2 separate regions of the Homo sapiens genome follow, and region 2 is linked to region 1. Evidence: fine-mapped expression QTL. A gene starts in region 1. The other region holds a variant in brackets. All regions are shown on one strand. Distances are between the middles of the regions. Region 1 holds the start of ITGA7 (integrin subunit alpha 7). Region 2 holds the start of TMT1B (thiol methyltransferase 1B).

Region 1 (5,368 bases):
AAGAAGTTTTTTTCATCAGTGAGTGCTAAGGCAGGCCACCTGCAACTCAAAAGCTAGGGACTGAGCAGGTGCCTGGCCTCTCACATACCCCCCGCCCCCCAGCAGCAGAGCACCCCCTGCTGGAGCAAAAGCAGGGTGAGGCAGTCAGGCCCTCTGGGAAAGGCCCCAGCTTGGCTCTGGGAGACGGAACCAGGGGCCACCTTCAGAGAGGAGGGGGAAATGACAAGAGACCAAGCTATTAAAAATAACCTAGAATTTGCCTGGAAATAGCTTAGAGAGTTCAGCATGTCCTAAAAAGGCCTCCAGTCCTCGAACTCTGACAGATGGAGAAGGAGGGAGGAAGGGAGGGAGGGAGCAAAGGTGAATGAGGAAGCAGATGGTAAACAGAAGAGGAGATGAAGTCCGTTGCTTTCTATCTCTCCCAAAGTTTTGGGGACCACCGACCCTGCTACCAGATGATAGGGATAATGGAAGAAGAAAGATTAGAGCTAGGCCCCCACTCCCCAAGCAAGTGAGGAGAAATGAGCTCTTGTCCCTGCCCCCTGCCCCCAGACCGACAGTAGAGGCAGAAGACAGTCCCAGTGGACAGCATTGATCCCAGTAATGGATACTTAATGTGGCTTAGGCACTGGTTGAAGAGAGAAAAGCCCCCTAGCAGGAGCAGGTGAGAAGCTTTCTTCACCTCTGGCCTCCCTTTTTACAATCAGACATGTAGCAAGAGCCAAGGATACAGGCAACATGACCAGTCACAGGCCCCTCACAAAAGTATATCCATCTCCCATGGGTCCTGAACTGATTAGAAAAAATTAGAATTGTCCTCCACCCCTTACTCCTCCTGGCCCTTCCCAGCTGCTGAGATTCCTGGAGTTGGAAATTTGCTAAGGAGGAGGAAGGGGAGCAGCCTGGCCAGCATCCTTCCTGGATCTCTCTCACTGCTACAGCTGCTGCGGCTACTACTACTGCTACTAGTACTTTGAGGGTTCAGTTTGCTGCCACTCTCTATCACCAAGCCACCTACTGCAGGTTGGCAGACCTGCAGATCCTCTCCCAATCTTCCCGTGGTCTTAAGCCACAGAAGTGGAAGCTCTCTCCTGGCCTTCCAGTGCCCTGCTGCCCTCATTCCATCCATGGCAATGCTCTAGCAGGAAGTTATTTCTGGAGTCTGCCCTGCATGCATCCCTCTCATGGCACCCTCAACTTCTATGTCCTTTCCATCTCCTCCCATTCTAAGCAGAGACAGACAGTCTCCCTCCCTTGGGGAATTCAGCCCTTGGAAGAAGCAGGGGAGCCAGAGGCCCTGGGGCTGGATCAAGGATGCAAGTTGGGGGAAAGGCCCAGAAGAAGGAGATGGTTCGCTGCCAAGACAAGAACCTTGCTTTCCAACTCATCCCTAAAGCAAAATACTGGTCTCAGGGCCGGGAAGTGCAGCTTCAGACGCAAGCCAGATGAGGCAAGGCTCCAGGTTGGGATGTGGGATGTCTGTGGGCAGTCTAGGTCTTGGTGGGGCTAGAAAACAGAGAAATGAGGAGGCCCACAGAGTGGGGAGGGGGACGATCTGTGGCTCGGGCATGGCGACTCTGGGCGGGTGCGGTGACTCACCAGCTCTGGGGTCGGGGCTGCAACTGCCGGTGCAGGGCCACAGAGAAGCCGAAGAGGCTGCCTGGCTCGCCCTCCTTGCGCAAGGCACCCATCACGTCCAGATTGAAGGCGACAGCCCGTGAGAAGAGCAGTTCGACGAGCAGGGAGCCAAAAAGGTAGCAAATCCCGGAGGCCCCCCAAGGGTCGCGGCTCCGAGCCCCGGCCATGGGACGATCCCTGCGCGAGCTCCCAGCGAATGCAAGGGAAATCTCGCACGCCCCAAGCCCCAGGTCCCCCCAGGCGCGTCTCTGGTCTCCAAAGTCTCGTTGGTCTTTCAGACGTCTCCCAGACGTTCGCCCCGCCAGCCCTCCCGCCCGCCCGCCGCTCCGCCACCCCGCCGCCCCAGCACCGGCTAGGACAACTACAGCAGCCGCAGCTCCGGCGCCCACTCCGGCTCCCGCCTCCTCTCCCGGGGACGCCACTCAGGCCCCGCCTCCGGCCCCGCCCCTCGCTCCCGCGGCAGGTGGAGACCCAAGCCCGTCTCCAAGGGGATGCCCAGGCTGGTGGCTGGGATGGAAACTAGCCTTGCTGACCCCCCACCACCACGCCCCCCAAGCCCAGCACCGTCTCCGGCTCCGCCCCTGCGCGGCGCTCTCCTCCCCTTCTCCCCCAACCCCATCCCCACCCCGGGAGTGGTGGAGGCGGCGCCTTGGAATGCGGAGGGAGAGAAGTACAGATAGAAAGAGAGGGGCTGAAACAGAGGAAGGAGGGTAAGAGATGAGAAGTTGGGAAGACGCTAAAAGACAACCTGGGAAGAGAGATGTGCAGATAGAGAGGAAATGAAAGGGGAGCCGTCCTGGGCCTGGGTGCAGCGTGGCATCTTAGTGCTCCCTGTTCCCCCATGGTCACATAGAGCACTCTTTCTGCTGTTGGGATCAGACCGCTGCCCTCCCCCATCCTATCCCATCCCCCGCCCCCAGCCCGGCAATGACCACAGCAGTGCTAGCCACATCGTCAGGATTCAAGGGAACAGAGAAAAAGAGGCAAGAAGAGAGAGAGAAACTCGGGAGATACGGGGAGCAAATGGAGAAATGGAAAAAGGAAAGGAATAGAGAGGAAGAAAGAAGGGCAAGAGATTAATTGACAAGGGATGGAATGAAGGGAGAAAAGAAAACGACTGGGGATGATTACAGGAAGAGGAAATTAAGCAGTGGGGAGGGGAGTGGGTGTCAAAGAAGGCAAAGATGAAAGAGACTGGACCCAAGAGGCAGAGGGATGTAAAGGGTGTCCCCAGCTACCAGACCCGTCCCAGGACTGCACATTTCCTATCCATGAAAGGGGATGGGAGGGGGCAGAGTCCTGGACTGGCTCAGCAGGACCTGGGTGGGGCTGAGATGGGATCTCCACAGGGACCCATTGGCCTGTCCCTCTTCCTCTCCCTTTCCCTCAGGCTGGGACAGAGGCAAGGGGGTGGGGGGACACTTTCCAACTCTCTGCTATTTATAACTCCGATACAGAAATGGGGCCAGAAGGAGAGACAGGAAATAATTTGGCATAATGGGAACCTCGAATGCTCCCACTTCCCCTTCCTACTCCCCTTGCTTACTGGTGTTGGTCTTGTGAATATACATCTGTCCATCTTCCCTTCTCTCTCTCACTATCTGATTTTGTCTCATCCCAAATTCTATTTTGTCATCATTCTTGTCTCTGCCACACTTGGAATCTTTCTCAGAGTATTTCTCAATGTTTCTAGTGTTGTCTCTGCCCTTCAAACACTATCATATTCTTACGATTCTTTCTTCTCTTTCCCTTTCTTAAAAGTTCCAATAAGTGTCCTACCTCCTTCCTCTTCCTGTGTTCTGTCTTTCCTACTTCATTGTTCAGGATTATACTTCTTTGAAAACAAAAAAAAAGTGGGTTCTTACTCTGCTGCCCTGGGACAGTCTTTGCCTTGGATAAGTTAACAGACATTTGGAAGTCTGGCCCTCTGTTTTCCAATACTACACCTGTGGCTATCCCCTCCAGAGCACTAACACATCTCTAAACAGGTACTATAAGGAAATACATATGCTGTCAGCAGGGCTGGCACCAGGATTCTACTTTCACCATGCCCTCCCCATCCTTTTTAATATCTCAGAGCCCCAGACAGTAGAGAAGAGCTGACATGGGAATGCAGAATTGCAAAATTAGGACAGAACTGGGACTACTGACTCCCTGCCCAGGTCCCCCCGCCCCCGACCCAGCTCAAAATGCCTTTAGAGCCCAAGCTGCCTCCTATCTGCACCTGCAGCTTCTGCCTGTCTCCATTCCCACTCCACTGGCTTCTGTGATCCAGGGCTGAAATCAGATGCCAAGAATCTGCTTCTGACCTCCTCTCTCCAAATATTTGAGAAGTCACCTCACCACCACAGGAGGAAAGATCAGGAAAGAAGAGAGAGAGAGGCCACCCAAAATTAGCCTGGCTATAAATAGAGGGGCAAAGGAGGGAGGGGAACACACAAGAGCGTGCTAGACCAGCCTAGTAAATTTAGACATGTAGATTTCTCTCAAGGAGAAATGAGACCAGAATGTTGGAGTGGAAGATAATATCGTAGGTGAAGAGGGAAATTAAGAAACTAGACGGGGCCGGGCGCGGTGGCTCACGCCTATAATCCCAGCACTTTGGGAGGCCGAAGCAGGCGGATCACCTGAGATCAGAAGTTCAAGACCAGCCGGACCAACACGGTGAAACCCTGTCTCTACTAAAAATACAAAAATTAGCCGGGTGTGGTGGCGGGTACCTGTAATCCCAGCTACTCCAGAGACTGAGGCACAAGAATCACTTAAACCCAGGAGACGGAGGTTGCAGTGAGCTGAGATGGCACCACTGCACTCCAGCCTGGGTGACAGAGACTCCACATCAGAAAAAAAGAAAAAAAAAAGAAACTAGAAGGATCCAGAGAATGCGGTAAGCTCAATATTAAAATAAATAAACTGTTAGAGAACTTCTTGTATTTCAGTCAAGAGCTTAGGAATTAGTTAAATTAAAAATTAATGCTGAGCTGGGCACAGTGGCTCATGCCTGCAATCCCAGCACTTTGAGAGGCCAAGGCAGGAGGATCACTTGAGCCCAGGAGTTGGAGACCAGCCTGGGCAACATAGGGAGACCCCCATCTCTACAAAAAATAGAAAAGTTAGCCAAATCTGTGGTCCCAGCTACTCAGGAGGCTAGGCGGGAGTGTCACTTGAGCCCAGGAGGTGAAGGCTGCAGTGAGCCATGATCTTGCCACTGCACTCCAGCCTGGGTGATAGAGTGAGACCCTGTCTCCAAACAAAAAATGCTGAAACTGTATTATTCCACTCGCATACCATTCTCAAAATGACAAAACTATAGAAATGAAGACCAGATTACTGGCTGCCAGGGGACAAGGATGGAGGGGGGTGGGGACAAACATAAAGGAATAGCACAAGGGGGTTCCTTTGTGGTGATGGGTTTTGTATCTTGATTGTGGTGGTGATTATCCAAATCTATACAAGATATAAAACTGCACAGAACTACAAACAAACAAATAAATGCATGTAAAAAATGGTGAAAACTGAGTGAGGTCTGCAGGCCAGTTAACAATACTGTACCAATATCAACTTTTTGGTTTTGATTTTATGCTACAGTTACATAAGATGTCACCATTAGGGGAAACTGAGTGAAAGGTACACAAGACTTCATGTGCTATTTTTACAACTTCCTCTGATCTATAATTATTTCAAAATAATTTCCAAGCCAGACATGGTAATCCCAGCACTTTGGGAGGGA
Region 2 (5,368 bases), 26 kb before region 1:
AAAGACACATAAAACCAAATATTGCTGGTGGACGTGTAAATGGGTACAATCACTTTGGAAACCCATTTGCTATTATCTACTAAATCCAATACATTGTTAAGAAGGGGGGGAAGCAAGGTATACAAGAGTGTGTACAATATACTACTATTTGTAAAAGAAAAGGGAATATGTATATGTATATATGTACATGGATCTAAACACGTGGTGTGTGTGTTCCCTGCTCGTTCACAGGTCATCTCTGGAAGGATTCACAAGAAATTGGCAATATGGCATTTAGTGCCTCCAGAGAGGAGATCTGAGTGGTTGGGTCACAGGAGTAGAAGAGAGAATTTTCCCTGTAATCTCTTTAGTATCTTTTTAATTTTGTACTAAGTGAATGTACTGCCTCTTCCAAAAAAAGTTGTTTAATAATGTTTTGTAAAAAGAATTCTTCTCAGCCAGGCGCAGTGGCTCCCAACTGTAATCCCAGCACTTTGGGAAGTCGAGGTGGGTGGATCACCTGAGCCCAGGAGTTCAAGACCAACCTGGGCAACAGGGTGAAACCCTGTCTCTACAAATTACAGAAAAAAAAAAATTGCTGGGCATGGTGGTATGCACTTGTAGTCCCAGAAAATCAGGAGGCTGGTGTAAGAGGATCACTTGAGCCTAGGGACATTGAGGTTGCAGTGAGCCCAGACTGCTGCCACTGCACCCCAGCCTGGGCAGCAGAGACCCTGTCTCAAAAAAAGGAAAGAAGGAAAGAAGGGAGGAAGGGAGGGAGGGAGGGAAGGATCTCTAAAAAGTGGCTATTCTCTGACCTCACTTCCCCCTATTTGTCCAACTTACCCCATTCCCCACAGAACTAAACTTCTCACCCTTTCCAGGAGAGGGCATGCTGTCTCTGTCCTGTACACCTACTTTTTCCTCTGCCAAGAGCACCCTTCCCTTCCTATGGCCCCTCTGAAGTGCCTGACCTGAGGACGAAATGAGGCCAGGATATGTCCCATGAGTCAACTCTGTCCCCAGCATTCACCACTACCAACCCACCCCCAACGCCCTGCCAGCCCCCGACACTCCCCCGCCATGAGTCTGTCATCTGAAACATATCCCCTTACCCCTTCCCACTCCCTCTGAGATGACTCAGCAGCCCCTGCCCCCCTTCAGCTGGGCACAGTGCCCCAGAACTCAGGAACATGGGTACCACCTGTCCCTCCGCCCACATAAAAGTCATTGAAGAGCTTGTGGGGCTGTGGGACCTGCGCCCTCTGGAGGAATTCCATACACCCACTCAACTCTGGCAAATAGGAAATTGTCAAGTAGGAGACAAGGAGCAAAGTCCTATCACAGCGGGAGGGGACGCCAGCGCCTGCAGAGGCTGAGCAGGGAAAAAGCCAGTGCCCCAGCGGAAGCACAGCTCAGAGCTGGTCTGCCATGGACATCCTGGTCCCACTCCTGCAGCTGCTGGTGCTGCTTCTTACCCTGCCCCTGCACCTCATGGCTCTGCTGGGCTGCTGGCAGCCCCTGTGCAAAAGCTACTTCCCCTACCTGATGGCCGTGCTGACTCCCAAGAGCAACCGCAAGATGGAGAGCAAGAAACGGGAGCTCTTCAGCCAGATAAAGGGGCTTACAGGAGCCTCCGGGAAAGTGGCCCTACTGGAGCTGGGCTGCGGAACCGGAGCCAACTTTCAGTTCTACCCACCGGGCTGCAGGGTCACCTGCCTAGACCCAAATCCCCACTTTGAGAAGTTCCTGACAAAGAGCATGGCTGAGAACAGGCACCTCCAATATGAGCGGTTTGTGGTGGCTCCTGGAGAGGACATGAGACAGCTGGCTGATGGCTCCATGGATGTGGTGGTCTGCACTCTGGTGCTGTGCTCTGTGCAGAGCCCAAGGAAGGTCCTGCAGGAGGTCCGGAGAGTACTGAGACCGGTAAGCAGGGTGGGAAGGGGATGGGTGTGGGGCAGGCAAACGCAGCATCAGCCGCCCCAGGGTTCGGCCCCCAGAATGGGGCGTCTGAGGTAGTAAGTAGCACATTAGACACCCCATCCACCTCTACCTGCTGGTGAATAGGAGACATGACCAGTGCCATGACGGGGCACAATTGGGTGCTGTGGAAGCAACAGGAGGATCACCTACCACCATGGGACAGGGAGGGGAGTGGGGAGGACACCTAAGGAACTGAGGTTTAAATCGAGATCTGTGCTTGGGAGGCTGAAGCAGAAGGATGACTTGAGCCCAGGAGTTCAAGACCAGCCAAGGCAACATAGTGAGATGCCGTCTCTACAAAAAAAAAAAAAAAAAAAAATACAAAAGCTAGCCAGGCGTGGTGGCACATGCCTATAGTCCTAGCTACTCAGGAAGCTGAGGTGGGAGGATCACTTGAGCCCGAGTTCAAAGTTACAGTGAACTATGATCGCACCACTGCACTCCAGCCTGGGCCACAGAGTGAGACCCTGTATCAAAAAAAATAAATAAATAAATAAAAAGAGAGAGAGAGAGAGAGATCTGAGGGATTAAGCAGAGTGTGGACGGGGTGGGGAAAATAAAAGAGTGTTCTAGGTAAAGATAGTAGGGGAAGTAGAGTAGAATCCATCAGACTGTGGAGAGAACGTTCAGAATAGTTTCCAGGTTTCTAGCATGAGCAACTGAGGGGAGAGCTGATGAAAAGTGCCATTTGCTGAGATGGAAGAAAGCTGTTTTGGACTTACTAGGTTTGAGATCACCTAGGGAGAGTATAGTGAGGCGAGGAGCTTGAGGAACCCCAGCTTCAGTCAAGAGTTGGGCCTGAGGTTTCCCTGGGATGTTCACAGCGATGTCCAGGAAGCAGCTTGTGCATGCATCTGGGTTTTGTGAGAGAGGTTGTGCGTGTATCTCAGAATACAATAAGCCCAGCTGGGCGAGGTGGCTCACGCCTGTAATCCAGCACTTTGGGAGGCAAGGCAGGTGGATCTCTTGAGGCCAGGAGTTTGAAACCAGACTGGCCAACATGGTGAAACCCTGTCTCTACTGAAAAATACAAAAAGTAGCCGGGCGTGGTGGCTCATGCCTGTAATCCCAGCTACTTGGGAGGCTGAGGCAGGAGAATCGCTTGAACCTGAGAGGTGGAGGTTGCAGTGCGCCGAGATCACGCCATTGCACTCCAGCCTGAGCAACAGACTGAGACTCTGTCTCAAAAAATAATAATAATAATAATAATACAATGAGCCCTCCACTCCTGTTTCTCAGTTTCCCCTTCTGCATGCCCTCGGTTATTCTGGTCAGGCTTTAAAGATCTCCCACCAGCCACTCCTTTCAGTTATGAGGTTCTTCA[C/T]ATGCACTTTGAAGGCGGTAGCAGGGGATGCAGAAAAGGTCAGGGGCACGACAGTTTGCTCCATGAACTCTCAGACCAGCAGCTCCCATTTCACCAAGAAGTTTGACTGTCTTGATCAGCGCGATAGGGAGCAGGGTCAGAATGGAGCCAAGTGACACTAACTCTCTCATCCCTCCCAGGGAGGTGTGCTCTTTTTCTGGGAGCATGTGGCAGAACCATATGGAAGCTGGGCCTTCATGTGGCAGCAAGTTTTCGAGCCCACCTGGAAACACATTGGGGATGGCTGCTGCCTCACCAGAGAGACCTGGAAGGATCTTGAGAACGCCCAGTTCTCCGAAATCCAAATGGAACGACAGCCCCCTCCCTTGAAGTGGCTACCTGTTGGGCCCCACATCATGGGAAAGGCTGTCAAATAATCTTTCCCAAGCTCCAAGGCACTCATTTGCTCCTTCCCCAGCCTCCAATTAGAACAAGCCACCCACCAGCCTATCTATCTTCCACTGAGAGGGACCTAGCAGAATGAGAGAAGACATTCATGTACCACCTACTAGTCCCTCTCTCCCCAACCTCTGCCAGGGCAATCTCTAACTTCAATCCCGCCTTCGACAGTGAAAAAGCTCTACTTCTACGCTGACCCAGGGAGGAAACACTAGGACCCTGTTGTATCCTCAACTGCAAGTTTCTGGACTAGTCTCCCAACGTTTGCCTCCCAATGTTGTCCCTTTCCTTCGTTCCCATGGTAAAGCTCCTCTCGCTTTCCTCCTGAGGCTACACCCATGCGTCTCTAGGAACTGGTCACAAAAGTCATGGTGCCTGCATCCCTGCCAAGCCCCCCTGACCCTCTCTCCCCACTACCACCTTCTTCCTGAGCTGGGGGCACCAGGGAGAATCAGAGATGCTGGGGATGCCAGAGCAAGACTCAAAGAGGCAGAGGTTTTGTTCTCAAATATTTTTTAATAAATAGACGAAACCACGAAACCACTAGACTGATGGCAGCAAACTAAGGTCAGATGAGAGGGGAAACTAGAGAAGGAGCAGCCTGAGTCAGTGACACAACCTCCTCCCCGACCCTCTAGGTTAAGGCACTTCCGGGGAGGCAGGTCCTTGGGGTCCTGTTACACAGGGTGAATGGGAGAGGAAGGGATTAGGATCCCTTCTCCCCACCTTTGCATCAGGACACCCCTGCCCTTCTCACCCTACCCCATGGCCCTGTCCCTGATTTACCCACTCTCATCTCACAGCACTCTAAGGGGAAGTTGGGTGGGAGGAGTTCTTGTGGGTGGGAGAGGTCTGTGCCCCTGAGGAAGCCGATCCTGCCAAATCTTGATGCGACACCAGCAGCCCACTCTACCCTCTTCATCCCAAGGAGCCATCTCTGGGGAAGGGATGGAGGGCAGCCACAGGCCAGGCTGGGACATGGGAACCTAGGCGGTGCCTGGCCCTGGATGCCCATCGGGGCCCAGCTCGGGATGCCCGTCAGCAGCCAGGATGGGGTGTGCATCCGGGCCCTCCCGCCGGGGGCTGCCCCAGTTGTTCCTCAGGATGGTGCCCGTCTTCTCCTCCTTGAACTGCTGTCGGTCTTCCCGAGGAATCTTCACCGCATGGTACTGGGGCACGGTGGCCTCGGGGTGCTTCGCCCGTTTGAAGAATCCCATCTATAAGGACACCAGGCCAGACCATGAGGAGCCTGAAGAGCTGCGGTCCCTGGAGCAGATGCCTAGCGCGGCACAGCTCCTCACCCTCACCATCCCTGCTGCGGCAGAAAGGAAATAGGCTGAATAGCATCTGGTGTGGTGGGCAGCACCCACGGTGCTCCCATCAGTGCTGTGTCCCCAGGTTCTCATTCACAGCAAGAGAGAGACCAGAAGGGCGTCCAAGAGGCAGGACCAAGGGTATCTCCCTTGGCCCCTGAAAGAGGGCCTTGAGGGTGGAGCATCAGGACCGGACTCAAGATTTGTACCCCCTCTAGCTTCTTAAGAGACCCAATAGTGTCCCCCAGAACACAAACAAGACCTGAGGAAGAAAATGGCTTCCTAGTCCCCTGCATCTCTGGAATGATACCTCTCAAGCCTCATAAAC

What was found. PIP is the estimated chance that this variant, and not a neighbour inherited with it, causes the effect.
Region 2: its variant is the best candidate, but not a certain one, in a credible set for the expression of ITGA7 in lymphoblastoid cells (GTEx, PIP 0.61).

The regions. Positions count from the first base shown.
Region 1 is chr12:55,705,878-55,711,245 of GRCh38, forward strand. It overlaps ITGA7 (integrin subunit alpha 7), which reads right to left and starts at 2,027. Exons shown (of 25, transcript NM_002206.3): 1 at 1,600-2,027. The coding sequence starts at 1,805. RefSeq lists a silencer at 1,941-2,150.
Region 2 is chr12:55,680,345-55,685,712 of GRCh38, forward strand. TMT1B (thiol methyltransferase 1B) reads left to right here and starts at 1,392. Exons shown (of 2, transcript NM_152637.3): 1 at 1,392-1,908; 2 at 3,469-4,267. The coding sequence starts at 1,411. The coding sequence ends at 3,705. ITGA7 (integrin subunit alpha 7) reads right to left here. Exons shown (of 25, transcript NM_002206.3): 25 at 4,224-4,944. The coding sequence ends at 4,714. RefSeq lists enhancers at 1,051-1,726, 4,753-5,252. The variant C/T (reference allele first, on the strand shown) is at 3,290.